Linked DNA regions of Homo sapiens. The protein of the gene in region 1 interacts with the protein of each later gene in a biochemical or structural test. Each region holds a gene or a part of one and is shown on either strand. Other genes may lie near its edges. The genes, in order: PTPN2, STAT6, STX17 and OCLN.

The links.
Region 2: of the proteins of PTPN2 (region 1) and STAT6, one has a biochemical effect on the other in vitro, tested with the Homo sapiens proteins (one study listed by BioGRID).
Region 3: of the proteins of PTPN2 (region 1) and STX17, one has a biochemical effect on the other in vitro, tested with the Homo sapiens proteins (one study listed by BioGRID).
Region 4: of the proteins of PTPN2 (region 1) and OCLN, one has a biochemical effect on the other in vitro, tested with the Homo sapiens proteins (one study listed by BioGRID).

What each region holds. Positions count from the first base shown.
Region 1 is NC_000018.10:12,825,009-12,832,334, reverse strand, and holds part of PTPN2 (tyrosine-protein phosphatase non-receptor type 2), read left to right. Parts: intron 1-1,293; coding exon 1,294-1,392; intron 1,393-6,390; coding exon 6,391-6,525; intron 6,526-7,326. UniProt on the Homo sapiens protein: Non-receptor type tyrosine-specific phosphatase that dephosphorylates receptor protein tyrosine kinases including INSR, EGFR, CSF1R, PDGFR.
Region 2 is NC_000012.12:57,101,238-57,108,563, forward strand, and holds part of STAT6 (signal transducer and activator of transcription 6), read right to left. Parts: intron 7,063-7,326; 5' UTR 7,042-7,062; coding exon 6,926-7,041; intron 6,507-6,925; coding exon 6,368-6,506; intron 6,078-6,367; coding exon 5,994-6,077; intron 5,595-5,993; coding exon 5,456-5,594; intron 5,344-5,455; coding exon 5,291-5,343; intron 5,103-5,290; coding exon 4,954-5,102; intron 4,363-4,953; coding exon 4,231-4,362; intron 4,103-4,230; coding exon 3,914-4,102; intron 3,577-3,913; coding exon 3,489-3,576; intron 3,355-3,488; exon of another isoform or gene 3,350-3,354; coding exon 3,227-3,349; exon of another isoform or gene 3,123-3,226; coding exon of another isoform or gene 3,090-3,122; intron 1,685-3,089; coding exon 1,592-1,684; intron 1,260-1,591; coding exon 1,053-1,259; intron 1-1,052. UniProt on the Homo sapiens protein: Carries out a dual function: signal transduction and activation of transcription. Involved in IL4/interleukin-4- and IL3/interleukin-3-mediated signaling.
Region 3 is NC_000009.12:99,901,577-99,909,708, forward strand, and holds the start of STX17 (syntaxin-17), read left to right. Parts: upstream 1-5,077; 5' UTR 5,078-5,130; exon of another isoform or gene 5,131-5,627; intron 5,628-8,132. UniProt on the Homo sapiens protein: SNAREs, soluble N-ethylmaleimide-sensitive factor-attachment protein receptors, are essential proteins for fusion of cellular membranes.
Region 4 is NC_000005.10:69,502,556-69,509,881, forward strand, and holds part of OCLN (occludin), read left to right. Parts: intron 1-1,621; 5' UTR 1,622-1,689; coding exon 1,690-1,739; intron 1,740-6,585; coding exon 6,586-7,264; intron 7,265-7,326. UniProt on the Homo sapiens protein: May play a role in the formation and regulation of the tight junction (TJ) paracellular permeability barrier.

The DNA.
Region 1 (7,326 bases):
GACCAACCTGGCCAACATGGTGAAACCCTGTCTCTACTAAAAATCCAAAATTTAGCCAGGTGTGGTGGCGGGTGCCTATAATTCCAGCTCCGTGGGAGGCTTAGGCAGGAGAATCTCTTGAACCTGGGAAGTGGAGGTTGCAGTGAGCTGAGATCGTGACACTGCACTCTAGCCCGGGTGACAGAGACACCATCTCAAAAAATAAAAAATGCTTTTAGTCTAGAACCACTTTAACCCCCTTGTTGTATGTGGGTCTGAAGCTCTGGGCAGCCCTAGCCCCCACTCCTGACTCTGCCCCTAACTCATACCACTCTGCTACATTCCATGTGAGTTGAATGCATGTTCATAGTTATTTTAGGTGTAGCAAAACTACATCTCATTTTAACCTTCTCATTTAAAACTCGTTAAAATTTGTACATAGGCTTTTCATCTCTTATTAGATCTTCCTTTTGCCCTATGCTATCATTAAAATGTGAAAGCAATTGGAAATACATGAAATATTTTGCTTTTATCCCCATGGCATTGTTGTAACATGGACTGTTGCCCCTTTTTAACTCTGCCCAATACTCTTCCATTGAGGCCGTACATACTGTGCATTTGTAGATTAACAGTTTCATTGTGGTTCAGGTACTTTAATGATTCCTACTTTTTCTAGAAATCTTTTTGTAGTTGACTTGAGTTGGTTGGCTGGCCAGTGATGGTACAGACTTTTTTCTCATGGATTTTCTATGATGTGTGGGAGGCACATCCTCTTGGCTGTAGAAGATGAAGAGGACAGAAATTTCCTTGGTCTACCTTCTTTGCAGCTAGAACATGATCAGTCAGATACTCCTACTCGTGATTTTGTCTCTGATTTGCCTATAGATTGTACATGAATACTATAGCCACCTTCATATGGCAGTGCCAGCAAAAGCAAGGAGATAGTAGTGACGGTATCAAGAGCAGCATCCCAGGTTGACTTTCTTTGGGGCAGGACCTTGCTTGTGTCTTAACCCTTGGTTCCTACCCAAGTTTGTCTCTCTAGTCCTCAACTCTGAAAGCCACTTGATATCTTACACAATTCCTTTTTTGCCTGAGAAAATAAAAGTCAGTTTTGATCATTTACAACCAAAAATCCTAACTAACACAGACCTGTTTTTGAAATCAGGTAGATTGGAAGTCTTGGTTTACTTCTTATAAGCCCGTCCGCTGTCTGTCTTGTAACATCCCAGGAGCAGACTTAACAAGGCCTTCCTGGAGCCTTGCTCTTTCTGTCTGCTTCCCTCATCTGCTCTCTCTCCTCTCTCTTCACAGGGTCCACTTCCTAACACATGCTGCCATTTCTGGCTTATGGTTTGGCAGCAGAAGACCAAAGCAGTTGTCATGCTGAACCGCATTGTGGAGAAAGAATCGGTGAGTAATATTTAATATTTACAACTTAGTATACTGTATGTGATCATTAGCATATAAAGATTTTCATTTTGGGGCCAATATTCATTCCTTAGTTTTGGCCTTTAATTGCTAAAGGCTAGCGGTCAAAGTGTTTCTGTCCGGAAAAACTCATGTATCCTTTTCCTTTCTTAAGTATTTTTATAACAATTGCAGACCTTTCATCTCCAAGATAGAAATACAATGGAATAAATATGGACTAGCAGTGACATATAGATCTTTGGAATCCCTAGGAATCCTTATTGACCTATTGTCAATAAGTCCTCTTCCAGCTTTAAGATCTTGTACTGTTCTACTTCAGATTTCTTACTTTATTCTACATTTCATAATTGCTGGTTTTTAATGATGATGAAAATTTCCTAATCCACTTCTAATTAGATGTGGCAATGACATGCCAGAATTTCCAGCAGTATCAGCATAGTCATTTACAGGGGTTTTTCCTGATCTTCAATATCATTTAAAAATTAAGGATTAGGCCAGGCACGGTGCCTCAAACCTGTAATCCCAGCACTTTGGGAGGCCGAGGCAGGCAGATCACTTGAGGTCAGGAGTTTGAGACCAGCCTGGCCAACATGGTGAAACCCCGTCTCTACTAAAAATACAAAATTAGCCAGGTGTAATGCTAGCTACTTGGGAGGCTGAGGCAGGAGAACCGCTTGAACCTAGGAGGTGGAGGTTGCAGTGAGCCGAGATTGTGCCACTGCACCTCAACCTGGATGATAGAATGAGACTCCATCTCAAAACCCACTGCACTGCAGCCTGGGCGGTAGAGTGAGACTCCATCTCAAAAAAGAAAAAAAAAAAAATCAAGGATTATGACATTGTCAGTTTGAGCACCATTGTAGACTACATGATTTGCAAATTTTATTTCTCTCATTTTGGAGTATAATTACTGTATTAATAAGATAACACTGCCACCAGAATTTAGAAATCATGTTTATGGTGGTTGAACCTAGATGGTTAACAAGAGTCAGGTTTAATTATTTTGGGGAAGATTACTTCAGAGGTGGTGGGTAATGTGTTATTCATCAAGAGACCCATAATGTCTGATTATTGTTCTTTTTATTTCATTAATAGCCATTATTGGTCAGTGTTCAGCTTCTTAATTCATTATGGGTTACAAATGATGATAATCCAATTCTGTCATTACTTCTCTTAAAAGCAGTTTTCCAAAAAAAAGTTGATTCCCTATTGAGGTCATCTGTTCTCAACAGATGACCAATTAGGAGTTTTTCTGGTGGAGAGTGGCAGGAGAGGTTGAATTATTATGGGTTTGGACATACTGGATTAATTTTACTCCTTTGCAGTTATTTTCCTTATTTTTGATCAAATTACCCTGTCATTGGCTAGCAGCAATGTCTTTAGGTTGGGTCCTGAGTCCTCTTTTTTTTTTTTTTTTTTTGGAGACAGAGTCTCGCCTGTTGCCCAGGCTGGAGTGCAGTGGCATGATTTCAGCTCACTGCAGCCTCCACTTCCCGGGTTCAAGAGATTCTCCCGTCTCAGCCTCCCGAGCAACTGGGATTACAAGCACCCACCACCATGCCCAGCTAGTTTTTGTAGAGATGGTTTTACCATGTTGGCCAGGCTGGTCTCAAGTTCCTGACCTCAAGTGATACGCCCACCTCGGCCTCCCAAAGTGCTGGGATTACAGGCGTGAGCCACCTCACCCAGCTCTGAGTCCTTTTTAACAAACCTTTAATAGTTTCCTTGGCTGGGTGCAGTGGCTCACACCTGTAATCTCAGCACTTTGGGGAGCTGAGTTGGGTGGATCGCTTGAGCCCAGGAGTTTGAGACCAGCCTGGGCAACATGGTGAAACTCTGTCTCTACAAAAAATACAAAAATTAGCTGGGTGTGGTGGCGCATGCCTGTAGTCCCAGCTACCTGGGGTACTGAGGCAGGAGGATCACTTGAGGCCAGGAAGTCAAGGCTACAGTTAGCTATGGTCGTGCCACTGCACTCCAGCCTGGGGACAGAGCGAGACCCTGTCTCAAAAAAAAAAAATTTTTTTTGCTGTCTGTAATGACTGCATCTCAGGCTCATCTCAAACTCTTGCTGCCCAGACCTGGAACCAGCCATTTCTCTAAGGAGTTTTGGTTTCTTTTAATGGGCAGCAGTATTTCAAGATCACAGCAAAAATAAGGATATATATTGCAACTGGACTGGTCATTGTTTTTAGGGCTTTTCAGTGGACAAAAGCTAAGGAACAATATGCATATGTTAAGATAACATACTTCAAGAGTTCATAATGATATTCCCAGTTCAAATTTGGAACTATAAGTGTTGCTTAGCCCCTTCCATCTTACATCTGCTATTTCCTTTTTCATACCAAGAATCCTGGTTCTCAAAGATATGAGAGATGTAAACTATCTTGTAATGACTCATTTCCTTCTTCCCATATCATATACAATATATAACCATAATCATGATATCATCTGCTACCAAAATAATTACTGAAAATGGTTTACAATTTTTAATATTTTTTTCATTCTCTTCCTGGTGTTTCTGAGTTGTACTTTACAAACTGTAGTCTCTCCCTTACATCTCTTGTAGACTCTTAGTTCTACAAGCAAGCATTATTTAATATTCATCAACAGTCTTTGCTGATGTCTCTCCAGTCATTCTGACTAAAGCTCATTCTCTAGTGGCTCCTAAGGAGGGACTTGTGAGCATTATAGTCTGATTTTTTTACATGTCAGTGATGGTTCATCTGCTGTCTTAATATCTGAAAGTCAGTTTGGCGGGATATAAAATCCTTGGCTCATGTGCTATTCTTTGAACAACTTTTTTTTTCCATTTCCTTCTGGTATTCCACCAAAGTCTAATGGACATCTTATTTCCTTTATAAGTCTCTTGTTCTTTTTATCTGCACTACCCAAAGAATTCTTTTTTTCTTTTTCTTCAGATATTATTAGTTTTACCAAAAATATGTCTTAGTAATTGGCCATTCTGGGTCAGTTTTTACAGGTACATGATGTGTTCTTGAGAGTTTGACTTCAAGTACTTTTTAAAATTTTTTAAATACTTTTTGTTAAAGAAATATTTGTTGAATTACAGTCCTTAGTATTTGTTCTGCTCCCTTGCTTGCTTTAATGTTCTTCTTTGGGTCTTCCTATTATACGTATGTTGGATTTTCTTTGCCTACCTTTTTTATTTGTCACGTTCTCTTTAATCCTGTTTATCTCTTTATTTCTATTTTACTTAAAAAAAATTTTTTTTTTTCTGGCCAGGTTGGAGGGCTTACACCTATAATCCCAGCACTTTGGGAGGCTGAGGCAGGAGGGTCACTTGAGCCCAGGAATTCAAAACCAGCCTCGACAACAAAGTGAGACCCTGCCTCTACAAAAAATACAAAAAGTAGCCAGGTGTGGTGGCACGCACCTGGAGTCCCAGCTGGGGTTGGGGGATTGCTTGAGCCCAGAAGATTGAGGCTGAAGTGAGCCAAGTTCACCCCAGTGCACTCCAGCCTGGGCTACTACAGAGCAAGACACTGTCTCTTAAAAAAAAAAAAAATTATTTATTTTCCTCTTAAGGCATTATTATTATTATTATTTTTTTTTTTTTTTGAGACGGAGTCTCGCTCTGTCGCCCAGGCTGGAGTGCAGTGCTGCTATCTCGACTCACTGCAAGCTCCGCCTCCCAGGTTCACGCCATTCTTCTGCCTCAGCCTCCCAAATAGCTGAGGCTACAGGCGTCCACCACCACACCCGGCTAATTTGTTGTATTTTTAGTAGAGACGGGGTTTCACTGTGTTAGCCAGGATGGTCTCGATCTCCTGACCTCATGATCCGCCTGCCTCAGCCTCCCAAAGTGCTGGGATTACAGGCGTGAGCCACCGCGCTTGGCCAGCAACATTTATTTTGAAGATAAAATTATTGCAAGAGTTTGATAATTTTAGAAACATAAAGTGAATGTCCCATGACGTTAAAATATAGGTAATCATGCTTTAAGAATGATAAATTTATTTTTATTTTATGAATATGATACCTATGGCTTTTTTAGTTTATAAGTTACAGGAACACTTAAAAAATACCTTATAAGACCGGACATGGTGGCTCACGCCTGTAATCCCAGCACTTTGGGAGGCTGAGGTTGGTGGTTCACTTGAGGTCAGGAGTTCAAGACCAGCCTGGCCAACATGGCAAAACCCTGTCTCTACTAAAAATACAAAAATTAGCTGGGTGTGGTGGCAGACGCCTGTAATCCCAGCTGCTCAGAAGGCTGAGGCAGGAGAATTGCTTGAACCCAGGAGGCAGAGGTTGCAGTGAGCCAACATCACGCCACTGCATTCCAGCCTGGGCGACAGAGCAAGACTCCAGCTCAAAAGAAAAGAAAAGCCTATGGAGACAGAAAATGGATCAGTGCTTGCCTGTGGCTTGGAGTGGGAATAGGACACAAGGGGATTTCTGAGTCTGAGAGAAATGTTCTAAAACTGGCTTACAGTGATGACTGCACACACATAAAAAATGCTTTATAAAATTTCAATCTCTACCCGCCCTGCTCCCCGAGATGGAGTCTTGCTCTGTCACCCAGACTGGAGTGCAGTGGAATGATCTTGGCTCACTGCAACCTCCACCTCCTGGGTTCAAGCGATTCTCCTGCCTCACTCTCACAAGTAGCTGGGATTACAGGCGCCCGCCATCGCGCCTAGCTAGTTTTTGTATTTTTAGTAGAGACAGGGTTTCACCATATTAGCCAGGTTGGTCTCGAACTCCTGATCTCAGGTGATCCTCCCGCCTCAGCCTCCCAAATTGTTGGGATTACAGGCGTGAGTCACCGCGCCCGGCTATAAAATTTCAATCTTACTAAAATACATTAAGCGTAGAATATAGTAGTGACTTCTTAGTTTTGGGTACTTGAAAAAATATAGCATGTATATATCTGGTTTGTTTTCATTTTTTAACTTTATGGTTTCATGATGTCTATAAACTAAAAAAAAATCATATACATATTTCTAAATTTAGGTTAAATGTGCACAGTACTGGCCAACAGATGACCAAGAGATGCTGTTTAAAGAAACAGGATTCAGTGTGAAGCTCTTGTCAGAAGATGTGAAGTCGTATTATACAGTACATCTACTACAATTAGAAAATATCAATGTAAGACCTTTCTTGCCCGAAATTGTGGACTTTATATGATGGTTTAAAGAATTATTCTTTATTATTAGATTTGAAGTTTGATAAGCACATGCATTTGGATAATTCCTATAGTATCTAGCCATAATCACGTGTTTTTAGATTGTGTGTCTGCATCTAGTAGCTTTCTGAGGACTCTGAAGAAACAGTAGAAACTAAGAATTTCAAAGTTCAGTTTGATATTTGGGGATTAAAAATTAATTAATAGAAATACATGAGGATTAATAGAGAGGGCTTTAGAATCAGGCAAACCTGGATTCAGATCCAGCTCTGCTGCTTAGTAGAGCTGTACTTTAGACTTGTTCCCCACCCTCACTGATCCCTTCCTCATCTGTAAAATGGAGGTTACCACGCCTTCCCTCCGGGGCTGTCCTGAAGGTCAAATGAGGATGTGTATGCAGAGCACCTGACCTTAGTAAATGCCCAGCAAGCAATAGCTCCCAGGACCTGTGACTGCCAAGAATAGCAAAATAGTCAAGAAAATAACTTACAAAGCTATTGTTAAGTGATTCACAACACAAAAATTTGTCCCTATTGAGTTGGAAAAAAAATGGTGTTTTATATATATATGTAACACGCACACATACATACATACATACACACACATGTATAAATGTGGCATGTGGTCTCAAGAACATTTACTTGGGTGTTTGTTTGGTTGGTTGGTTGGTTGGTTGATTGGTTTTTTGAGACAGTCTTGCTTTGCCACCCAGGCTGGAGTACAGTGGCATAATCACAGCTCTCAATGAGGCCTCCAACTCCTGG
Region 2 (7,326 bases), on another chromosome or scaffold:
GCCACCATGCCCAGGTAATTTTTGTATTTTTAGTAGAGACGGGGTTTCACCATGTTGGTCAGGATGGTCTCGATCTCTTGACCTTGTGATCCGCCCGCCTCAGCCTCCCAAAGTGCTGGGATTACAGGTGTGAGCCACCACACCTAGCCTTTTTTTTTTTTTTTTTTGATACAGAGTCTTGCCCAGGCTGGAGTGCAATGGTTTCATCTTCCCTGCAGCCTCTACCTCCTGGGTTCACCTCCTGCCTCAGCCGAGTAGCTGGGATTACAGACGCAAACGACCACTCCTGGCTATTTTTTTGTTTTTAGTAGAGACGGGGTTTTGCCATGTTGGCCAGGCTGGTCTCGAACTCCTGACCTCAGGTGATCTATCCGTCTCGGCCTCCCAAAGTGCTGGGATTACAGGCATGAACCACCATGCCTGGCCTTTTTTTTTTTTTTTTTTTGAGACAGAGTCTTGCTCTGTCACCCAGGCTTGAGTGCAGTGGTATGATCTCAGCTCACTGCAACCTCCACCTCCTGGGTTCAAGCAATTCTCCTGCGTCAGCCTCCCATGTAGCTGGGATTACAGGCATGTGCCACCGCAACTGGCTAATTTTTGTATTTTTAGTAGAGATGGAGTTTCACCATGTTGGCCAGGCTGGTCTCAAACTCCTGACCTCAGGTGATCCACCCACCCCGGCATGTCAAAGACTGGGATTACAGGCATGAGCCGCTGTGCCCGGCCAGGAACTATTTTTCCAACAGGTCAAAGTCACTTTGAATCAGAGCTCTGTTTACACACAACCTGGGTGAGTCATGCAAGTCACTGGTAAAGAGGAAGGACAGATGGCCCCCAGACCAAAACCTCAGGGATGTCAGAGAACGCATCTCCAGAGCCAACCCCCAGGCCTGGGGTTTTTCCTCCCTGGTCCATGACAGGCCTTCCTAAAGGACCTGAGGGGGCACTGTGGAGAATCCAGTGGAAGGTCCCTGCATGGAGGCTGAGCAGGCCCTGAGTGCCCCAGGGATGAAGAGCTTGGGGGTGGGAGGTCCAAAGGGCAGGAGAATGACCTTGTTGAACTGCGACCAGGACACAGAACGGTGCTGGAAGGCCTCCATACTGAGGCTGTTGTCATTGAAGATCTTCTGGGCCAGGAAGAGGAAGTGCTCTGGGAGCAGCCCCCGGTTGGTCCCCACCTCAGCCATGAACTTCAGGTTCAGAGTTTCACACATCTTCTCCCAGGGCACCCGCTCAGCCACCACAAAGGGCACGCGGTCCTGGGGAGAAGGGGGAAGAAGAGAGCACTGCAGGCTACCGTCTTGTTATTCCTCGGGCCGGCCTTCATCCCTCCCACCTGCCTGTGGCCTACCCCTCCACAGCCCCTGATATCGCTCACAAACATGCTGTTTTTTCTAGGTTACAGTGCTGTGGCCTGATAGTTGTTAAGACTGGGGTGAAAAGAGGTCAGAAGCACGAAAGCAGGCCCATGAGAAAGTGTTAAGGTCACACCCATTTAAACATGCCCACCACCCCATCAGCAGGCCTGCACCACTGCCCATGTTAGAACCCACCCTGCCCCTGTTCCCTCCAACTCCAGGACTTTCCTCACCATCTCAGAGAAGGCATTGTCCCACAGGATAGTGGCTTTGGCATTGTTGTCTTGGTTGCCATGGACGATGACCACCAGGGGCAGAGACAGGGCCTGAAGAGGGTGAGGACAGGGGTTTCTTTTCTTTCTTTCTTTCCTTTTTTTTTTTTTTTTTTTTTTTTTTTTTTTTTTTTTTTTTTTTTTTTTAGATAGTATCTCACTCTGTTGCCCAGGCTGGAGTGCAGTAGTGCAATCTCAGCTCACTGCAGCCTCAGCCTTCAGGGCTCAAGTGATCCTTCCACCTCAGCCTCCTGAATAGCTGGAACTACAGAAATGTACCACCTAATCCAGCTAATTATTTATTTATTTATTTTTGAGACAGAGTCTCGCTCTGTCACTCAGGCTGGAGTGCAGTGGCGCGATCTTGGCTCACTGCAAGCTCTCCCTCCCAGGTTCACGCCATTCTCCTGCTTCAGCCTCCCGAGTAGCTGGGACTCAGGCGCCCGCCACCATGCCTGGCTAATTTTTTGTATTTTTAGTAGATACGAGGTTTCACCGTGTTAGCCAGGATGGTCTCGATTTCCTGACCTCATGATCCGCCCGCCTTGGCCTCCCAAAGTGCTGGGATTACAGGCGTGAGCCACCATGCCCGGCCAATTTTTTATTTTTTGTAGAGATTGGATCTCCCTATGTAGCCCAGGCTGGTCTTAAACTTGCAGGCTCAAGCGATCCTCCTACCTTGGCCTCCCAAAGTGCTGAGTTGTTTTGTTTTGTTTTTGAGACATAGTCTTGCTCTGTCGCCCAGGCTGAAGGGCAGTGGCGCAATCTTGGCTCACTGCAACCTCCGCCTCCTGGGTTCAAGCGATTCTCCTGCTTAGCCTCCCGAGCAGCTGGGACTACAGGCCTGCACCACCACGCCCAGCTAATTTTTGTATTTTTAGTGGAGACGGGGTTTCACCATATTGGCCAGGCTGGTCTTGAACTCCTGACCTTGTGATCTACCCACCTCGGCCTCCCAAAGTGCTGGGATTACAGGCTTGAGCCACCATGCCCAGCCGGACAGGGGTTTCTTAGTGAAGCAAGAAGTTTCCTCAGGGGACTGGCTCTGAGCACTCAGAGAAGTTATTGGACTCACACATCATAATCAAAAAGCTCATGCCATGTTATTAAATGCGTTCTGAAGCTCAATCAGGGCCTCACCGTAGAGAAGTGGTTATTAGTCATCGCTATGGAACCAGACCTCCAGGTTTCAAATACCAGCTCCAACACTTAGCTGTGTGACTGGGACAAACTACTTAAACTCTCTGTCTCAATGTCCTTATCTATAAAATGAGGCTGATAATACTGCCTACCTCATAATGTTATTGTGAAAACCAGACGTGTGTGTGCTGGCACGCATGTGCGTATGTATCATTTAATAGAGTGCCCTGGTCTATAGGAAGTGCTTCCGAAGTGTTTGCTGCTATCCACTACCATTCCCTGCCCTGTGCACTCCATGCTCTTGCTCACCCCCACTCACCCGGGCCCCAGTGTGCATGAATCCCAGACACATGGGGTATGGGGCAGTCACAAGAGGTGAGGGTCCAGGGCCCTTGTGTGTGGCATTGGAGGAGGACTCGGGGTCCCAGATTGGGGCAGGGCTGGGCCACGGTTCACCTGGAGCTGGATGGGGAGTTTGCCGGGGCCAAGTGTGAAGCTGGCAGAGAAGAGCACAGCGCACTTCTCCTCTGTGACAGACTCAGTGCCCTTCCGCTCACACCGCTTGATCTTCTTGAGAAGCTGTGGGTGGGGTGAGGGAGAGCAAGGGCGAGGTCATGAGGACAGAGACCGCTCCTCCTGGGCTTCCTGACATCCTCTCCAAGGAGAGTCCCACAGTCTCCTAGTGGTGCCCCCCTCACTGCACCCCAAAGCCCCTCACCAGGTTCTTGAACAGGGCAGAGCAGCAGTTCCCAGGAATGCTGTTCTCCAAGGGCACAGTGTTGTTGATGATTTCTCCAGTGCTTTCTCTGCCAGGGGAGGTCAGAGTGTGAACGAGCTCATCTCACTGTCGTCAGGTGTGGCGAGTGCATGGGTGAGTGTAGACTACCCACTGTCACCAGCCCTAAATCTCCATGTCTCTGTTTGGGTTCTTAAGGGAGGAGTCCCCATCTTGGCCAAATCATGATGCCCCCACCCCATTCCAGCCCTAAATGGGTCCCTCCCTTTCCTCTGCCTTGACCATTCAGGGTCTCCACATCCCATGGCCCTCCCTCCCCATCCCTTGCTCTTTTCAGTGCCAGCCCTCCAGGCTGCCTCCATCACCCTAACAGCCCTTCTCCAACCCCAGGTCCAATCCCAGCTTACGCTCCAGCCCCAGGACCCTGAGGCACACTCAGCTCCCGCGCCTGCTTCTCTGTCACCATGTCGGCCCTGACCAGCGGAGGCTTGGCTGGGGCCCCCAGGAACCTCAAGCCCAACAGGAATCGAACTCCAGCCTGGAACTTGGTCTGAGTCTTCAGTACCTGGGGGGGCTGCTTCTCCACCAGGAAGCAACTGGGAGTGAGGAGGACACAAGGGGAGTTGGGGGCTAGGTCCCTGCTGGTGCCCTCCCCACAGCTCTAGCCCCCTTCTTTTCTTCCCGAGGTCTGTTCTAGGCCAGACTGGGAGCTCCCGGGGAATACCTGGTGACGAGGGTTCTCAGGACTTCATCCAGCCGGCCAGTCAGCGATGCCCGGGTCTTGGGCTCAAGCTCCCCACCAGCCGCCCCTACCTCCTGCTGTAGCTGGGAATAAATGTCCACCAGGCTTTCACACCTGGGGCCAGGACAGTGGTCAGGGGGCACAGGATTAAGGCTGCTTGCTCCGGCCCAGACCCCCTTCCCCTATACCCAGGGAGAAAGGCTATCATGTGTGGAGAAGTGGGGTGGGTAGTGGGTGTGGCTGCAAGGCACCTGGGCTGAAGGGGGTTCTGTGATCTGTTGGCCTAGGGTCTGGGTGGGAGGTTCATTCTCAGTGCCTACACCCCCTGTGGAAACCCAGCTGCCTCTCCCCCGACGGCTCTTGCACCCAGGACAACTGCCACCACTTACAGTGCTTTGTGGCAAATTGGAAAGTGTTCCCACCCAATAAACCAAATGGAAAAGCCCTCCTATTCCTCTAGGCATGGGGCTTGAGGAGAGAAGCCTGGGTTGGATGAGTCCCCGCTTGTGCCCCTCCACTAGGCCCACTTGTACAGGATGCGACCTGAACGACAGTGTGCACAGCCCCGCTGGAACTGGCTTTTATGCATCTTGGTCCACTCCAAGGCCCTCCCGCCTGGCTTCTTTCTCTCACCTGTAGGGCCTTCAGCAGGGTCAGCTGCCCACCCCCAGCTTGCCCCCTCTTCCCCATCAGCCCTAGCCCAACCTCTCCTGGAGTGGGGCCAGGCTCTCCTCAAACGGTGCGCCATTCCCTGCCAGCTGCTGCTGCCGTTTCCAAATCTGGATCCTCTTCAGCACTAGGGCTTTGGCTGCCTCTAGCTCTCCAGTGGTCTCCTGCAGTAGCATGGCCAGGGCCTATGGGCAGAGAGGGGCCTGAGCCAGGGCCTCACGCTGCCTCCACACCCAGCTCCTGGGATACGGCTCTTTTTCTCACTCCTCTGGCATTCCCTTGCCCTACTTCAGCCTGTGTCTTTCTGAGGTCTAGCTTCCATCCCTCCAGCTGCACTTTGACCAAGGTCTCCACCTGTCAGCCCATTACTCACCTCACTTGGCCCAGTCCCATTAGCAGGAGTTTCTATCAAGCTGTGCAGAGACACTGAGGGTTGGGGGCAGAAATCAAGGGTGCAGACAGATTAGAGGTTCAGATAAGGTTGAGATCCAAGAGGCAACCACTCCTACACACTCCCCAGAACCACCCTGGCCCCCACCTTGGCCAGCCTCAGCCCCCTTCTGCAGGGCTTCTCGGAGAAGGTGGATCTCCCCTACTCGGTGCTGCAGCCTCCGCAAGCCTGTCTTAAACTTGAGTTCTTCCTGCTTCCAGTGGAAAGGCATTGGCAAGTGGCGGAACTACACAGGAAGGACAGATGCCAAGAAGTGAAACACTCTGCTCATCCCTCTATACCTGGCCTCCACTCTCTGCTCTGCAGATAGCGTTTTCTTGTTCCCCTCTCCCCTTTGGCAGTTCTTCCTGACCTTTTGGAATATCGTGGAGATAAGACCTTGCTCCTAGCAGAATCAGCTCCTTATCCCTTGCTCTGTTCTCCCCGGCCTCTTACCTTCAGTCCCTCATAGAAAGATTCCCTGAGCTTGACTTGGGGTTCACTCTGACCCTAGGAACCTCCTTTGGTCATTCCTGGGCCTAGAACACTGAGCCTTTACTGAGGTTCAAATTCTTTCTAGTTTGTCATGGCTCAGGCCAAAGTCTCAGGGGATTGAGTTGGGGTGGGAGGTGGAATATCACAATACCTGTTCCATAACAGCTTTTTTCTCTCCTTGAAGTATTTGTCTGAAAGTGGCCACCAGCTTCAGGGGGTCCCTCTGATATATGCTCTACAGAAATGAGGGTGGTAAACAGTGAGCTTTGCTCTTACCCATGTCCTTCAATCCCTCCAATCCCCAGGCCTGCATTCACACATATACTATAAGGAAGCACAACTGTAGACTCCAGAAGTTTTTGTGCATTTGCATGCTTTTAAAATCTAATTTGCCTGCTAGCTAGCAGTTAACCACAGGAACACCAATTTGCTTCCAGCATCCAACCAATTTTCTTCCAGGGCCCAATGCTCAACCCAGTTCAACCTCAGCCCCACCCAGCCTTGTCCCCTCCCCTCCTGCCCCACCTCAAGGGTGCTGATGTGTTGCAAGATGGTGCTCCCCTCCCCCTGCTCTCCCACCGAGGCCTGAAGGTGCTGGACAGTGTCTGAAAGTAGGGCACTAGCCAAGTTGCAGCAGAAGGCGTCGGAGCCGACCAGGAACTCCCTGCAGGAAGATCAGGATGAGGCTACCTCAGGCCAGGGCTTCCTCAGCTCTCCTGACCCTTTACCCCACAGCCAAAAGCTCAGCAGTTCCTTTCTCGCTCCTTATTCTCCATCTAGGCCCTCTGTAGCTTTCACCCATGCGCCTTGTTTCCCAGTCTTCTAGCTGTTATGAGAAGTGCCTTTGTCCCAGCCCAAACCCCCCTCCTCTTCGGCTCAGCCTCCTAAGAGATGGGGTCTCCATCTGTCAACATTCATAGCCTGGTCTTGATGGGGCACAGACTCCCTGCTAAATCTAGGTCACTACACATGGAATAACAGGTCTCAAGTTCTGAATCCATGGGTGAGGGGAGAAAAATCTAAGGAGAAGGAAGATGAGTTAGGGAAGACTTGGGGGACCAGCAGGGAGCAGCCAGGACTCACCAGGGCTGGCTCTCCAGCCAGTCACCCAGAAGATGCCGCAGGTGTTGGGGAAAGTCGACATAGAGCCGCTGCACTTTTTCTGGGGGCATCTTGGAGACCAGACCCCACAGAGACATGATCTGGGACTTGGAGGTTGCCTGGAGGAGAAAAATAAGGCCACTCTGAGGGGTGCCCAAGAAACTTGGCCTATCTCCTGGGGCAGCCAGGGACCTCCCATAGATAGCCCTCCTAGGGACCGTCCCCACCACCACTCATGGCCAGACCACCTTAAACCAGGGGCATCCTGAGTCAATGCCTGAGATGGGGGTAACTCCTTCAGTGATAGACACAGGGGTGGGAAGAGCTGAGCTGTAGCCAGAGGGATGGGGAGGCAAAGGGAGACAGGGCAGTAGAGCGAGAGC
Region 3 (8,132 bases), on another chromosome or scaffold:
TGTGGCTTTTCCAGGTGCACAGTGCAAGGTATCAGTGAATCTACCATTCTGGGGTCTAGAGGACTAGAGGACGGTGGCCCTCTTCTCACAGCTCCACTAGGTAGTGCCCCAGTAGCATCTCTGTGTGGGGGCTCTGACCCCACATTTCCTTTCTGTACGGCCTTAGCAGAGGTTCTCCATGAGGACCCCACCCCTGCAGCAAACTTTTGCCTGGGCATCCAGGCATTTCCATACATCCTCTGAAATCTAGGTGGAGGTTCCCAAACCCCAATTCTTTACTTCTGTGCACTTGCAGGCTCAAAACCACGTGGAAGCTGCCAAGGCTTGGGGCTTGCACCCTCTGAAACCACAGCCCAAGCTCCACATTGGCCCCTTTCAGCCACAGCTGGAGCAGCTGAGACACAGGGCACCAAGTTCCTAGGCTGTACACGCACGAGGACCCTTGGTCCAGCCCATGAAACCATATTTTCCTCCAAGGCCTCCAGGCCTGTGATGGGAAGAGCTGCTGTGAAGACCTCTCACATGCCCTGGAAACATTTTCCCCATTGTCTTGGCGATTAACATTTGGCTCCTCATTACTTATGCAAATTTCTGCAGACAGCTTGACTTTCTCCTCTGAAAATGGGATTTTCTTTTCTGTCACATTGTCAGGCTACAAATTTTCCAAACTATTATGCTCTGCTTCCCTGATAAAACTGAATACCTTTAACAGCACCCAAGACACCTCTTGAATACTTTGCTGTTTAGAAATTTCTTCCACCAGATACCCTAAATCATCTCTCTCAAGTTCAAAGCTCCACAAATCTCCAGGGCAGGGGCAAAATGCTGGCAGTCTCTGCTAAAATATAACGAGAGTCACTTTTGCTCCAGTTCCCAACAAGTTCCTCATCTCTATCTGAGACCACCTCAGCCTGGACCTTATTGTTAATATCACGATCAGCATTTTTGTCAAAGTCATTCAACAAGTCTCTAGGAGGCTCCAAACTTTCCCACACTTTCCTGTCTTCTTCCGAGCCCTCCAAACTGTTCCAACCTCTGCCTGATAACCAGTTCCAAAGTTGCTTCCACATTTTTGGGTACCTTTTCAGCAACGCCCCACTCTACTGGTACCAATTTACTGTATTAGTCCATTTTCATGCTGCTGATAAAGACATACCCAAGACTGGGAAGAAATACAGAAGAACTGTATTTGGACTTACAGTTCCACATGGCTGGGGAGGCCTCAGAGTCATGGCGGGAGGTGAAAGGCACTTCTTACATGGCAGCAGCAAGAGAAAATGAGGAAGATGCAAAAGTGTGGAAACCCCTGATAAAACCATCAGATCTCTTGAGACTTATTTACTACCATGAGAACAGTATGGGGGAAATCGCCCCCATGATTCAAATTATCTCCCATGATTCAAATTATATCCCACCAGGTCCTTCCCACAACATGTAGGAATTATGGAAGTACAATTCAAGATGAGATTTGGGTGGGGACACAGAGCCAAACCATATCAGTGGGAGAAGCTTCCTAGGTGAGATGACTTTTGAGTCCAGCAGAATAAAGAGTAATTTCTTTACTCTGGGGTGGGGGGAAAGAGATGGGGGAAAGCAGGCAAAAAATGGCATTCTAAGAAGAAAGAGTAATAGTTGCAAAATCAATTTGGATTTTTTAAAATGTTTTATTATAGAAATCATAAAGGGGGCCTGGTGTGGTGGCACACACCTGTAATCCTAGCACTTTGGGAGGCTGAGGTAGGAGGATCACTTGAGCTCAGGAATTGGAGACTAGACTGGGCAACACAGGGAGTCCCAATTTCTAGAAAAATAAAATTAGCCCAGCATAGTGGCATACACCTGTGGTTCCAGCTTCTTGGGAAGCTGAGGCAGGAGGAGGTCAAGGCTGCAGTGAACCATGATCACCCCCATTGCACTCTAGTCTGGGTGACAAAGCAAGATTCTATCTCAAAACAAAACACGAAGGAAGGAAGGAAGGGAGGGAAGGAAATAAGAAAGGAAAGGAAAAGGAAGGAAGGAAATAAGAAAGGAAAGGAAAAAAGGGAAGGAAGGAAGGAAATAAGAAAGGAAAGGAAAAGAAAGGGAAGGAAGGGAAGGAAGGAAGGAAAAAAGAAAGAAAAGAAAGAAAAACAAGAAAGAAAGAAAAAGAAAGAGAAAAATCATAATGGGATTTTGATAAATTTTTAAGTTAGTTTGGTGGAAATGGACAACTTTACAATATTGACTGTATTACTTTTCCACATAGTCAAGTCTTTACTTGTATCTTATATGGAAATATGGAAGTCAGGTTAAAGTATAAATACTGTTACGTAAGATTTGAGTCTTACTCCTGTTATGTAGTATATGAGACTTGGACCTTGGTCAAGTTACTCTCTAAGCCTCAATTTCCTAGTTTGTATGAAGGGGGTGATTGTAATACCTACTTCATGGGTTGTCATCAGTATTAAATAACATATTGCATGTAAAGCGCCTAACCAAGTGCTTTACACATCACATGCAATCAAATAAAAAGCTACTTCTTCCCCCCTCCCTTTTTACATGGCTTTATTTAGGTATAATTCACATACAATAAGCACTTATACATAAACATATTTACAGTGTACAATTTGGTAAGTTTTGACATATATATACGTCCATGCAGCTATTACCACAATCAAGATAATGAACATTTCTATCACTCCCAAAGTTTCCTTATGCCCCTTTGTGATCCTTCCTTCCACCCCTATCCCTCATCTAGCTATTATTCTCAATTCTTCAAATAGGTCTTGTAATTCCTTATAAACACAAACTTGATTTTTGTCATTTTTGAATGTAATCTTCCTCCCAGTACATTTCAATTTTTTTTTTTTTTTTTTTTTTTGAGACAGGGTGTCAGTCTTTTCTGCAGGCTGGAGTGCAGGCTGGTGGGATCATAGTTCATTCCAGCCTCAAACTCCTGGGCTCAACTGATCCTCCTGTTTCAGCCTCCTGAGTAGCTGGGATTATAGGTACATGCCACCATACCCAGCTACGTTTTTTTTGTTTTTTTTAGAAATGGGGTCTCACTATTTTGCCCAGGTTGGTCTTGAATTTCTAGCCTCAAGCAATCCTCCCTCATTGGCCTCCCAAAGTGCTGAGATTATAGGCATGAGCCATCACGCCCAGTCTTCTTCTCATTACATTTTAAAATTGATGATTGTTGTTTAGGAGAGGTATTTTATAGCCATCTTATTGAATTAGTTTCAGTTTATTCCATGGATTTTCCAAGAAAGCAATCAATCATAACACCCTAAGAATTTTTTTTAATTTTCTTTCCAACATATACACTTAATGTTTTGTTTGGACTTGCTGGGTTCAGTTAGGACTTCAGGAAAATGTCGGCCAGTAGTAGCAGGCCTGCCCCTAACAACTTGATGACCTAGAGTACACAAAAGAGGTCCACACACCATATGTTTGAATATTTAAAGATTATAAATCAAGCTAACCAACAGTTAGATTAAAAGGTTTTGGTCGGGCATGGTGGCTCACACCTGTAATCCCAGTACTTTGGGAGGCCGAGGCGGGCGGATCACGAGGTCAGGAGATCAAGACCATCCTGGCTAACATGGTGAAACTCTGTCTCTATTAAAAATACAAAAAATTAGCCGGGCATGTTGGCACACGCCTGTAGTCCCAGCTACTCAGGAGGCTGACACAGGATAATCGCTTGAATCTGGGAGGTGGAGGTTGCAGTGAGCTGAGATCATGCCACTGCACTCCAGCCTGGGCGAAAGAGCAAGACTCTGTCTAAAAAAAAAAAAAAAAAAAAAATGTTTATCCTACTACTTTGACACACCTAACTTACAGCAAACATACATATAACAACTTAGAAGTCCAGGTCCAAATTTAGAATCTTTGAGTACCACACCTCCTGATTTTGTACCTGAGGAAGCTTTTTCAGAACTTAACACAAATGATCTTTTATTTCAAAAGATCTTATTTCACTGATCCTTGCATAAAAAACATTTTCTCACAGTATTGCCTAATACTTTAATTTTTCTCCTTAGAATCAAAATTTGATAAATACATTCTGGAGCTCATTGTAAAACAAATATCAGTATACATTATGTCCCCAAAGAAAATCCAAATTGCTTGGTAGATTTGGTGCTTTGTTTTAGAAATTGTCTTTCAAGGCTTTTTAAAGGATCTACAGGCCCCTAATCTTCCCTGTTTACCTCCTACTCTACTGGAAGACCCTAAGAACTCAGTTTCCTTAACTGTGGTTTGAACATCCTGATCACTTCTGAGACAATGCCATTAGTGAATACATTCTAAGCACGTCATCTGAATATTCACAGACATCTTTTTAAAAGGGCTGGATCTGGAAGTTAGGCCATGAAGAGAGGAGGACCTGTGACTTGGACAAGGCTTCAAAGCCGGCCACCTGCTTGTTCATGTGGTTGCAGCTGGTCTAACTGGAATAACTTGGGAAGGAAATTAGGACACCCAGTTGGAGTTCCAGCTCTGCCATAAGCTGGCTGAACTGGAGTGAGTCACTTAAAACTCTTTGTTAAACCCCAGAGTCATAATCTATAAAATCGGGATAAAGACGTTTGCCTTAAGCCCTCCACCAGTTTTTGGAGGAAACCACAATTTGCTGAGCTTTAATTTTTACACCTGTTGCAATTAAGATGGCACTCCTGCCCTGTCCACTTCACAGGGCTTTTGGGGACGGGATGGGGAGGCACCACCTTTCTGAGCTTCAGTTTCAAAACAGAGCTAAGAATACATGCCCAACCCGCAAATAAAATTCTAGGAAGAACAGAGGAAAACGGACAGGAAAACTGCGAAATGCAGTCGGCCATACAAGCATGAATTGTCTTAAACACAACAAGCAGACCTAAAGAGCGTTTGTGCGTCTCTCTCCTCTTGGCTCGAGTCACAACCCCATAACGTAAATCAATATCACTTTTGAAAAAGGCTTTCGCTGTTCTCAGCAGCGTCCGCATTTGTACTCACCTGTGCGCCCCCAGCGCCCGGCCTGGGGGCCCTGCGGGGCGGGGGCGGGGGCGGGGGCGGGGCCCAACCCTGCCCACCCCTCGTGATGCCCCGCCCCGTCGCTCCTGCGCCTGCGCCGTGCCCACCGACCGGCCTCGAGCGCCCCGGCGGGAGGTAAGGGGCTCTCTGGAGGCCGCCTTTGGGGGCGTCGGGCCCTCACAGGCTTGGTGGGCCTGGCGCCCGTGTGGCGCGCGCAAGAGGCGCTGGGCGGCAAGTAGGGCATTGGATCCGAAGTGCGAGCGCCATGGTGGCTCCTCCTGTTTTTCAGAAGTGGCGGAGCCTCGCTTGGTTTCGTTTTTGGAAGCTTTATTGGAAGCTGGTATAGGGAGGCCGCAGACGATGCGAGCAGGACGGCCTCCCGGGGTCGCGGGGTGGAAAAGTTTCCGGCGCGCGTCCTGTCTCTGGCGCGCTGTAGGCCCCGGGTCGCCAGGGTCGCTGGCGTCTGGGTCCCGGGACAGACCCGCGCATCCGTTCGCTGGTGGGGGCGTTTGGTGTGTGTGGCCCAGGTGTGCTGTGGGTGACACTGCGAGGAATGACGCGACGCTCGATGGTAGTGAGGCTCGGAGGACTGGGAGCGAGAGGCCGGAAGCCCCTGCTCGCCAAACCCAGAGGTGGTTGGCAGAAGGTCCCACACCTTGGCTCCCTCCTTTTAGCTAACCGAGGTTCAGAGAGGAGACTTTACTTTGACTTTTCTCTCCAAATTCGGTATCTCTTCCATAAGTCAGAAACATTAAGCGGCGGGCCGGAAGAAATCGGGCGCCACTAGTATCCTGAAAAGTGGGAGCTCTGGGCCGATGGAAGGTGTTCGTCACTTTTGGGGGCTGGGTTTCCTGAGAAATGGGGTCTTTCACTTATTAATAACCTCCTAAGTAACTTACTGGGAAACATGAGTATTATGGTACCCATCTCATATTAGTTGTAAGCACTACATGATAAAGTTTGTAAAGCACCTGGCACAGTCCTGGCACCCCTCTCTCCAAGTATTAATGCAGTGAATACGATGGCAGTTCTTTGACTTCTAAATGTTTTTACCTGTCTTACGTGAAACATCCTCTTATACTAAAAAACTTTTTTATTTTGAAATAATTTTAAAATTACAGAAAAGTTTCAAAAGTAATACAGAGTTCCCTATTGCCTCCATTAATAATTTTTTACATACCATAGCGCAATTATCAAAAGCAAGAAGTTAATATTAGTATAATACTATTAACTGAATTACTAACTTGTGATTTTTTTTCCTGTATTAATGTCCTTTTTCTATTCTAGGATCCACTCTAAGACCCGACATTGCAGTTAGTTGTCTTGGGTCCTTGGTCTCCTCCAGTCTGTGACAGTTCCTCTGTCTTTTCCTGTCTTTACACTGATAGTCTTTTTCTGTCTTTATACTCTTTCTGATCTTTACACTTTTGAAGAATGCTGGTCAGTTATTTTGTAGAGTGCCCCTCAAATGGGGTTTGTCCAGTGTTCTCTCATGATTAGATTAAGGTTATACATTTTTGTTAAGAACACAAAAGTGTGTGTGCCCTTCTCAGTTCATCATATGAGCATAGCTGATATATATGACTTATTGCTCGTGAGGTTAATCTTGATCACTTGGTAGAGAGTGTCTGCTGGGATTCTCCAATGTAAAGGTCTTATTTTTCTCCTTATAATTGACATCTTGGGGGGGAGCTTTTAAACCGTACGCATATCCTGTTTCTCCTCAGACTTTCCCTTGCTAAATTTCACATCCATTGGTGGATCTTGCCTTCAGCAATTATTATGACTATGGTGTTCTAATGATGATTTTCTACTTTCCTCATTTCTTTATTAATTGAAATTATTCTGTAAGGATGAGCTGCCCATTTCCCATTTGTTTATTTGTATTCCGTTATTTATTTGTATCCATGTGGACTTAGATGTTTTTCTATTGGTTGTTATCCTACACTTGTGTTATTTTATGTTTGAAATTGTTCCAGCTTTGATCATTGGGAGTTTTCTTTCAGGTTGCTTTCTGTAGCTTTTCAGCATGCTTCCATCCTTTTTTTTCTTTTTTGGAACTTCCTAATTTTCTGGTACCATAGGATGCCCCAGGCTCATCTTGTGTTTTCTGTGCCTCAGCCCTGATAGTCAGCCACTTCTCCAACGACCCGTAGTTTCTTTTTTTGGAGAATAGTATTTAAACACAAAGATCTGTGCTCTAGGGATGCTCATTGCTACTGGGGTAACATTGCTTCCAGGGCCCCACAGAAGACACCAGTCTATACATATGCATACCCATGCATACACAAAGATCTATGTTTATTTCTGTATTTGTCTATCCATATACTTTTTAAAAACAAAAGTTCATCCCAGTAGCTTTGCTTCTAGTCTAACACCACAGGGTTCATTCTAGTTTTGTCCCTTATTTTTAACTTTTTATCTGACAGTGAGAAATCTGACTCTTGGCATTCTACAAAATATTTTCTTATTTCTTCAGTCCTAGTATACACATAAAGTAATTTCAGGATTTCTGACCTATGTTCCTGTGAGAAACACATTTACTAAATAGAGTACAGTGTAGTTCTTTTTGTCTCTAGGCTTATAGTATTCAGTTAAAATATTGTTTTCTAAAGTGGCTTAGATAATTTTTCTTCCTCACTTCTTTCAGTGTGGTTATGCTATTCGTTTATAATACAGTTTATGTTTTTATAGTTTATATTCCATTTTGGAGGGAAAGAGTCTAAAGGTAGACTAATTGAAGCTCCATTATCATGGCTATGCATATTGTGCTATTTGACTAGAGTGATAGGATTAGCAATTGTATAGAAGGGACGTGTGAAGAAATATTTTAGTTCAGGCAGCATCTATTGAACAACAGGTGTGTTCAAAAAACATTTTGATAGGAATGATGGTAGATATAAAGATAATCTCTTTGTGGTATAGAAGAAAAGAAAAGAGGCAGTGTGATAGATTGGGAAATGTTAATGTTAGACAAATAATTGATACATTTAACATGTAATAGCCTTTTATGAGTTAATAAGAGAAAGACATCCCCTGTAGTAAAAACAGATGCATATGACATGAACAGGCAATTCATGAAAGAAGAAATGCAATGAGTACAAAAAAATAGTGATAGAGGATGAATAAAATATAGT
Region 4 (7,326 bases), on another chromosome or scaffold:
ATGGAATTTACCTTCCAGTAGATCTCAAAGTTCCCTACTCTACTAATCACTGGTATAACCTGGAAAGAATTTATTGTTGGTTCAACATAGCTAAGGAGTGGCATGAAGTTCTGTAGCTGATGTGGGAAGTACCTTGCCAGTGTCTCCAGCACTGGGTTTTCTAGAATAATCCTCAAGCTTTATAGGTTAGGGGGTTGTGTGTTTACCACATCTTGCTGAGACTTGTCTTTTTCCTGGAGAGCTCTCAGTGCCCATGGATCCACCTACGGACGTAGGCAGATGACCTCCATCTTCACTTCCTCATGGATGCTAACACCAGATGTGCACTCCCCACAAAAACTGGTGTTTCCCAAATGGAACTCATTGTTTCAAACTAGCATAGTGAAAAGCACATGAAATCATCTGGGTTCAAGTTACATCTGAGTGACTCACTGACATCCATATAACCTTGAGCATATTACTTCACATCTCTTTCTGACCCTCTTTGCATCTGTAAAGTGACTAATCAACCATGGAGGGTCGTTTTGAGGATGAAAGGAGGTTTTATGTAAAGCACCCAGCACGTCGGTAGGTGTCTGATGAATGTTAGTTTCCTTCCTATCTTCTGTCTCCTAAGCTAGTCCTTCATTGTTGCCTCACACCTAGGTTTGCTGCTGCTGACTGTAGGTGCTCCTTTTTACTGTTGACTTTGTCTTTCAAATCTGGTTCAAATCAAACTTACACCTCCCTTGCCGAGAATCACGAACTGGCTCCCTGTTTCCTACCTGAAGGAAGTGAGACACTCCCACTAGACTTTCAAAGCCCTCCCTTTTCTTACTCATCCTCCATCCACTATATTCTTACTGTAACCTTATTTTAAAAGATGACACCATTCCACCATGCTCCCACTTCACTGTTCCATAAGCTAGCCACCTGTGTTATCAGCACCACACCAGCCTGGAAGAGCCAGGACCCCAGCGCTGGCTGTCATACGTCACTCCCACAGGCTCTCCTGGTCTAGTGTAGGCACTTAATAAATGCTTGTTGAGTGAAATTTCTCCTCAGATGTTTAGGAACTTGTGCTGAAGAATTTTAGGACAAAATTTCAGAAAATGACCAATTAATACCATGCATATTGTTTTTTCTCCCCTTGTATAAAAATTGTGCTCAGTTTCGAAGACTTGGAAAAGGAGATAAGGGAAAAATATCTACAATTCCACCATTTATAGATGCATTTTATTATCATTTTTAATGATAAAGGCATTTAACCCATTAGATGGTTACTTTGCATTGAGGAGCTAGTATGTGCTAGTGCGGCTATATGTGCACTTTCTTATACATTCTCATTTAATATGAACTTTCAAAAGTAATATGAAATTATATATATTTCAAATTTTTGTACAAAAAATACAGGAATTAGCCAGGCATGGTGGTGCAGGTCTGTAGTCCTAGCTACTTGGGAGGCTGAGGTAGGAGGAGTACTTGAGCCTGGTAGATCAAGGCTGCAGTGAGCTGTGATTGGACCACTGCACTCCAGCCTGGGTGACAGGGTGAGACCCTGTCTCGGGGTGGGGGTGGGATGAAGAAAAGAAAGAAACTGTGAGCTTAGTAGTAATGCCATAACTCTACTTTTGTTGCTTAGATTGGTTTATCTTGGAAGCTAAAGGGCATTGCTCATCCTGAAGATCAGCTGACCATTGACAATCAGCCATGTCATCCAGGCCTCTTGAAAGTCCACCTCCTTACAGGCCTGATGAATTGTAAGTAAATAATTCTTTAGTTATTCTCTTTTAAAAAGTCTATCACATGTAAACAATAAGTATGGTTGAAACTTTAAGTGTTTGCTTTTAAAAATAAAACGATATGTGTACTTGTAAATTTAAATTGTATCAAAGGGTCTGCACTGAAAACTGAATTTCTCTCAACTTTCAGAATGACAGTTTGTCTCTGCTAGGACAACTGCTGTCACCTATTCCTAATGTTTGTTTCAAGAGATTGCCAAGGTTTATATTTGTATGTTCCTTTTTGTTTTGTACAAATGATAATGAAGCTTCCATTTAAATGCCTCATTTAGGTGGCCATTGGGAACATATTGTCAGTTTTTAAAAATAACAGCTTTAGGCCGGGTGCGGTGGCTCACGCCTGTAATCCCAGCACCTTGGGAGGCCGAGGCTGGCGGATCACAAGGTCAAGAGATCGAGACCATCCTGGCCAACATGGTGAACTCCCGTCTCTACTAAAAATACAAAAATTAGCTGGCTGTGGTGGCGCGCACCTCTAATCCCAGCTACTTGCCTGTAATCCCAGCTACTTGGGAGGCTGAGGCAGGAGATTCACTTGAACCCAGGAGGTGGAGGTTGCAGTGAGCCGAGATCACGCCACTGCACTCCAGCCTAGAGACAGAGCGAGACTCCGTCTGAAAAAAAGAAAAAAGGCCAGGCCTGGTGGCTCATGCCTGTAATCCCAGCACTTTGGGAGGCCGAGGCGGGTGGATCACCTGAGGTCGGGAGTTTAAGACCATCCTGACCAACGTGGAGAAACCCCCATCTCTACTGAAAATACAAAATTAGCCGGGCATGGTGATGCATGCCTATAATTGCAGCTATTTGGGAGGCTGAGACAGGAGAATCGCTTGAACCCAGGAGGCGGAGGTTGAGGTGAGCTGAGATGGCGCCATTGCACTCTAGACTGGGTGACAAGAGCAAAACTCCGTCTCAAAAAATAAATAAATAAATAAAAATAACAGCTTTATTGAGATATAATTAACATACTTTACAATTTACCCATTTAGAATGGATAGTTTAATGGTTTTTAGTATATTCACAGAGTTGTAGAACCATCACCACAATTAATTTTAGAACATTTCATTACTCTCCAAAGAAACCTATCCATTGGCAGTCACCTCCCAGTTCCATCAGCCCTAAGCAACTATTGGTCTACTTTCTGTCTCTATAGATTTGTCTATTCTGCATATTTTGTATAAATGGAGAAATCACGTAATATGTGGCCTTTTGTAACTGGCTTCTTTCACTTAGCATAATACTTTCCATACTGTCAGTTTTAAGAGTGATTCCTGCCATGATCTAAAACAAGCAGTGTTGAGGGGTTTTGGGCTCCTTGGTCATGTGAAGACTTATCAGTGAATTTTTGAATTCCAAATTTGCTATCAAACATTGATAGGGATTTCCTCCTCTAAGTAGTTTGCAGCTTTAACCATGATAAGTGTAGTGGAGTGTGATATAGGCAAAAACAAACAGTTTCTCCTGCTGTTCTGTCACAACACATCTGTGACCTCTGATCACCAGAATTTGTGGGGATATTTCCCCACCAGCAACCAAGTAATCAGTTCTACAGTGGACAATAGCTGTGTGTCCTCTAATTATCAGTTCAATTCTGACACTGTCAGAGATAGCATCAGATCACAGGTTCAGGGCTCATTCCCACAAGACTGCCCCCACTTCACGTAGCAGCCACAAGCTCAGGTTGTGGCCTGTGTTTCTGACCCACCTACAGTAAATCAGGATTCCCACAGTTGTCTCCTTGGGTGCAATTAATTTGCTAAAGTGGCTTGCAGAACTCAGGGAAACAGTACTTACCATTACTGGTTTATTATAAAGGGTATTACAAAAGCCAGGTGTGGTGGTGCATGCCTGTTATCCCAGCTACTCAGAAGGCTGAGGCAGGAGGATTGCTTGAGCCCAGGAGTTTGAGGCCAGCCTGGGCAACATAGGGAAACCCTGTCTTTTAAGAATGAATGAATGAATGAACAAACAAATGATATTACAATGGATGCCAACAAACACCAGATGAAGAGGTGGACAGGGCGAGGTATGTGGGAAGCAGCCCTCCCTGGTTGTGCCACCCTCCAGGAACTTGCACATGTTCAGCTGTCCAGAAGTTCTGTGAATTCGGTCCTTTTGGGTTTTTATGGAAGCTTTATGACATAGGCATGATTGACTAAATCATTGGCCATTGGTGAGCAGTTTAAGCTTCAGCCCCTCTTTCCTGTCCAGAGAGGGTTGGGGCTGAAAAGTTCCAACCCTCTAATCCTAGCTCCCATCCTGAAGCTTCCTAGGGCTGCCAGGAACCTATCATCTCATTAGCATATAAGGGATACTTATCACTTTGGAGAGTCCAAAGATTTTAGGAGTTGTATGCCAGAAAATGGAGATGAAGACTAAATACATATTTTACAATATCACGTGAAGGTTGTGTTCCAGTTCTTTAACCTCCTTACTAGTGCCTAAAACATGGTGGGGACACAAGTTGTTTATGACAATACAGTTTTTAAAACATACTAGAGAATATAGTAATTGAGTAATGCACCACTAATCTGACACTTATTTTGTGTTGCTTTTGTAAATAATGGTGAACTGCAACATACATAAAGAAAAGGACACAGAACATATGTAGGAGATCATGAGGAAAGACCAAGCAAACATACATACTCATCACCCAGGTCAAGAAACAGAACACTTCAAAGTCCTTCCCTGTGTCCTCTCCTTTTCTCTGGAGACCACTGTCCTGACGTATGATCATTACCTGCTTTTATCATTTTATCATCTTGTATATCCTAAACATTTCAGTTTAGTTTTACCTGTTTTATTTATTTATTTTTGAGACAGACTCTCACTTTGTTGCCCAGGCTGGAGTGCAGTGGCACAATCTTGGCTCACTGCAACCTCCACTTCCTGGATTCAAGCAATTCTCCTGCCTCAGCCTCCCAAGTAGATGGGATTACAGGTAACCACCACAATGCACAACCAATTTTTATGCTTTTAGTAGAGACGGGGTTTCGCCATGTTGGCCAGGCTGGTCTCAAATTCCTGACCTCAGGTGACCCGCCCACCTCCTAAAGTGCTGGGATTATAGGTGTGAGCCACCACATCTGGCCAGTTTTACCTGTTTTAAAACTTTATGTAAATATAATAATGCGATATGTATTTTTTCATTTTTTTCAGCATTACCTGTAACTGCATGTATTCATAGTTCATCAGTTTTGGCTTCATAGCACTGTAGAAATATAACATGAGCCATATATGTAATTTTATACTTTCATTAAAAATAAAAAGATAATTTTTTTTTTTTAAGACAGAGTTTTGCTCTTTTTGCCCAGGCTGGAGTGCAATGGCACGGTCTCGGCTTACTGCAACCTCCACCTCCTGGGTTCAAGTGATTCTCCTGCCTCAGCCTCCCAAGTAGCTGGGATTACAAGCACACACCACCACGCCCAACTAGTTTTTGTATTTTCAGTAGAGATGGGGTTTCACCAGGATAGCCAGGCCGGTCTCGAACTCCTGACCTCAGGTGATCCACCCGCCTCGGCCTCCCAGAGTGCTGGGATTACAGGCGTGAGCCACCGTGCCTGGCCAAAAGAAGAAATTAATTTTAATATATTTCACTTAATCTTGTATATCTAAAACATTACTTCATCACGTGATTGATGTAAAAAATGAATGATTCAGGAAATATTTTACATTCTTTCTTCATATTATATCTTTGAAATCCATTGTGCATTTTTAAATTTTTTTGCCCTGTCACCCAGGCTGGAGTGCAGTGGGTGTGATCGCAGCTCACTGCAACCTCTGCCTCCTGGGTTCAAGGGATTCTTGATTTTCGTGCCTCAGCCTCCCAAGTAAGTGGGATTACAGGCATGTGTCACCATGCCTGGCTAATTTTTGTATTTTTAGTAGAGATAGGGTTTTACCATGTTCTCCAGGCTGGTCTCAAACTCCTGGCCTCAAGTGATCTGCCCACCTCAGACTCTCCACTGTGCATTTTAACAGCGTATCTCAGTTTGGACTAGCCACATTTCTTTTTTTTTGAGACGGAGTCTTGCTCTGTCACTCAGGGTAGAGTGCAATGGCACGATCTCGGCTCACTGCAACCTCCACCTCCCGGGTTCAAGCAATTCTCGTGCCTCAGCCTCCTGAGTAGCTGGGATTACAGGCGCATGCCACCACGTCTGGCTAATTTTTGTATTTTTAGTAGAGATGGGGTTTCACCATGTTGGCCAGGCTGGTCTTGAACCCCTGACCTCAAGTGATCCACCCGCCTTGGCCTCCCAAAGTGCTGGGATTACAGACATGAGCCACCGTGCCCAGCCGGACTAGATACATTTCAAGTGTATGATAGACCCAAGTGGCTAGTGGCTGCCACATTGGACAGTATAGCTATGGAGTATTCCATTGTATGGATATATTACAGTTACCCATTCCACTGTAGGTAATTGGTACAATCACTTTGGAAAACAGTTTGATACTGTCTAGTGAAGTTGAAGATATAAAAATATGTGATCCAGAAATTCTCCTGGTTATATACCCTAGAAAAATAAGTACTGTTCCGTACCAGAATACACATTCAAGGATGTTTATAGTTAAACTGTTTACAATACCCCCAAACAGAGATAACCCAAATGTCTGAGCAGAATGGGTTGTGGCTAGAGGCCAATAATCTTATGTTTTAACAAGCCCTCCAGGTGATTCCTGTGCACAGATAAGCTTTAGTTTCATTTACCCAATGGTTTAAATTATTCCAAATAAGTTGTGTTCTTTCTGCTTACTACCAAAAAATGCTAACTTGAAATTATTTTCATGTTCATTTCAGCAAACCGAATCATTATGCACCAAGCAATGACATATATGGTGGAGAGATGCATGTTCGACCAATGCTCTCTCAGCCAGCCTACTCTTTTTACCCAGAAGATGAAATTCTTCACTTCTACAAATGGACCTCTCCTCCAGGAGTGATTCGGATCCTGTCTATGCTCATTATTGTGATGTGCATTGCCATCTTTGCCTGTGTGGCCTCCACGCTTGCCTGGGACAGAGGCTATGGAACTTCCCTTTTAGGAGGTAGTGTAGGCTACCCTTATGGAGGAAGTGGCTTTGGTAGCTACGGAAGTGGCTATGGCTATGGCTATGGTTATGGCTATGGCTACGGAGGCTATACAGACCCAAGAGCAGCAAAGGGCTTCATGTTGGCCATGGCTGCCTTTTGTTTCATTGCCGCGTTGGTGATCTTTGTTACCAGTGTTATAAGATCTGAAATGTCCAGAACAAGAAGATACTACTTAAGTGTGATAATAGTGAGTGCTATCCTGGGCATCATGGTGTTTATTGCCACAATTGTCTATATAATGGGAGTGAACCCAACTGCTCAGTCTTCTGGATCTCTATATGGTTCACAAATATATGCCCTCTGCAACCAATTTTATACACCTGCAGCTACTGGACTCTACGTGGATCAGTATTTGTATCACTACTGTGTTGTGGATCCCCAGGAGGTATGAGTGGTGTTTTGGGTTTTTTCTCCATCTCCTTAGCAGAGGCCTTCAACTTGAGATAT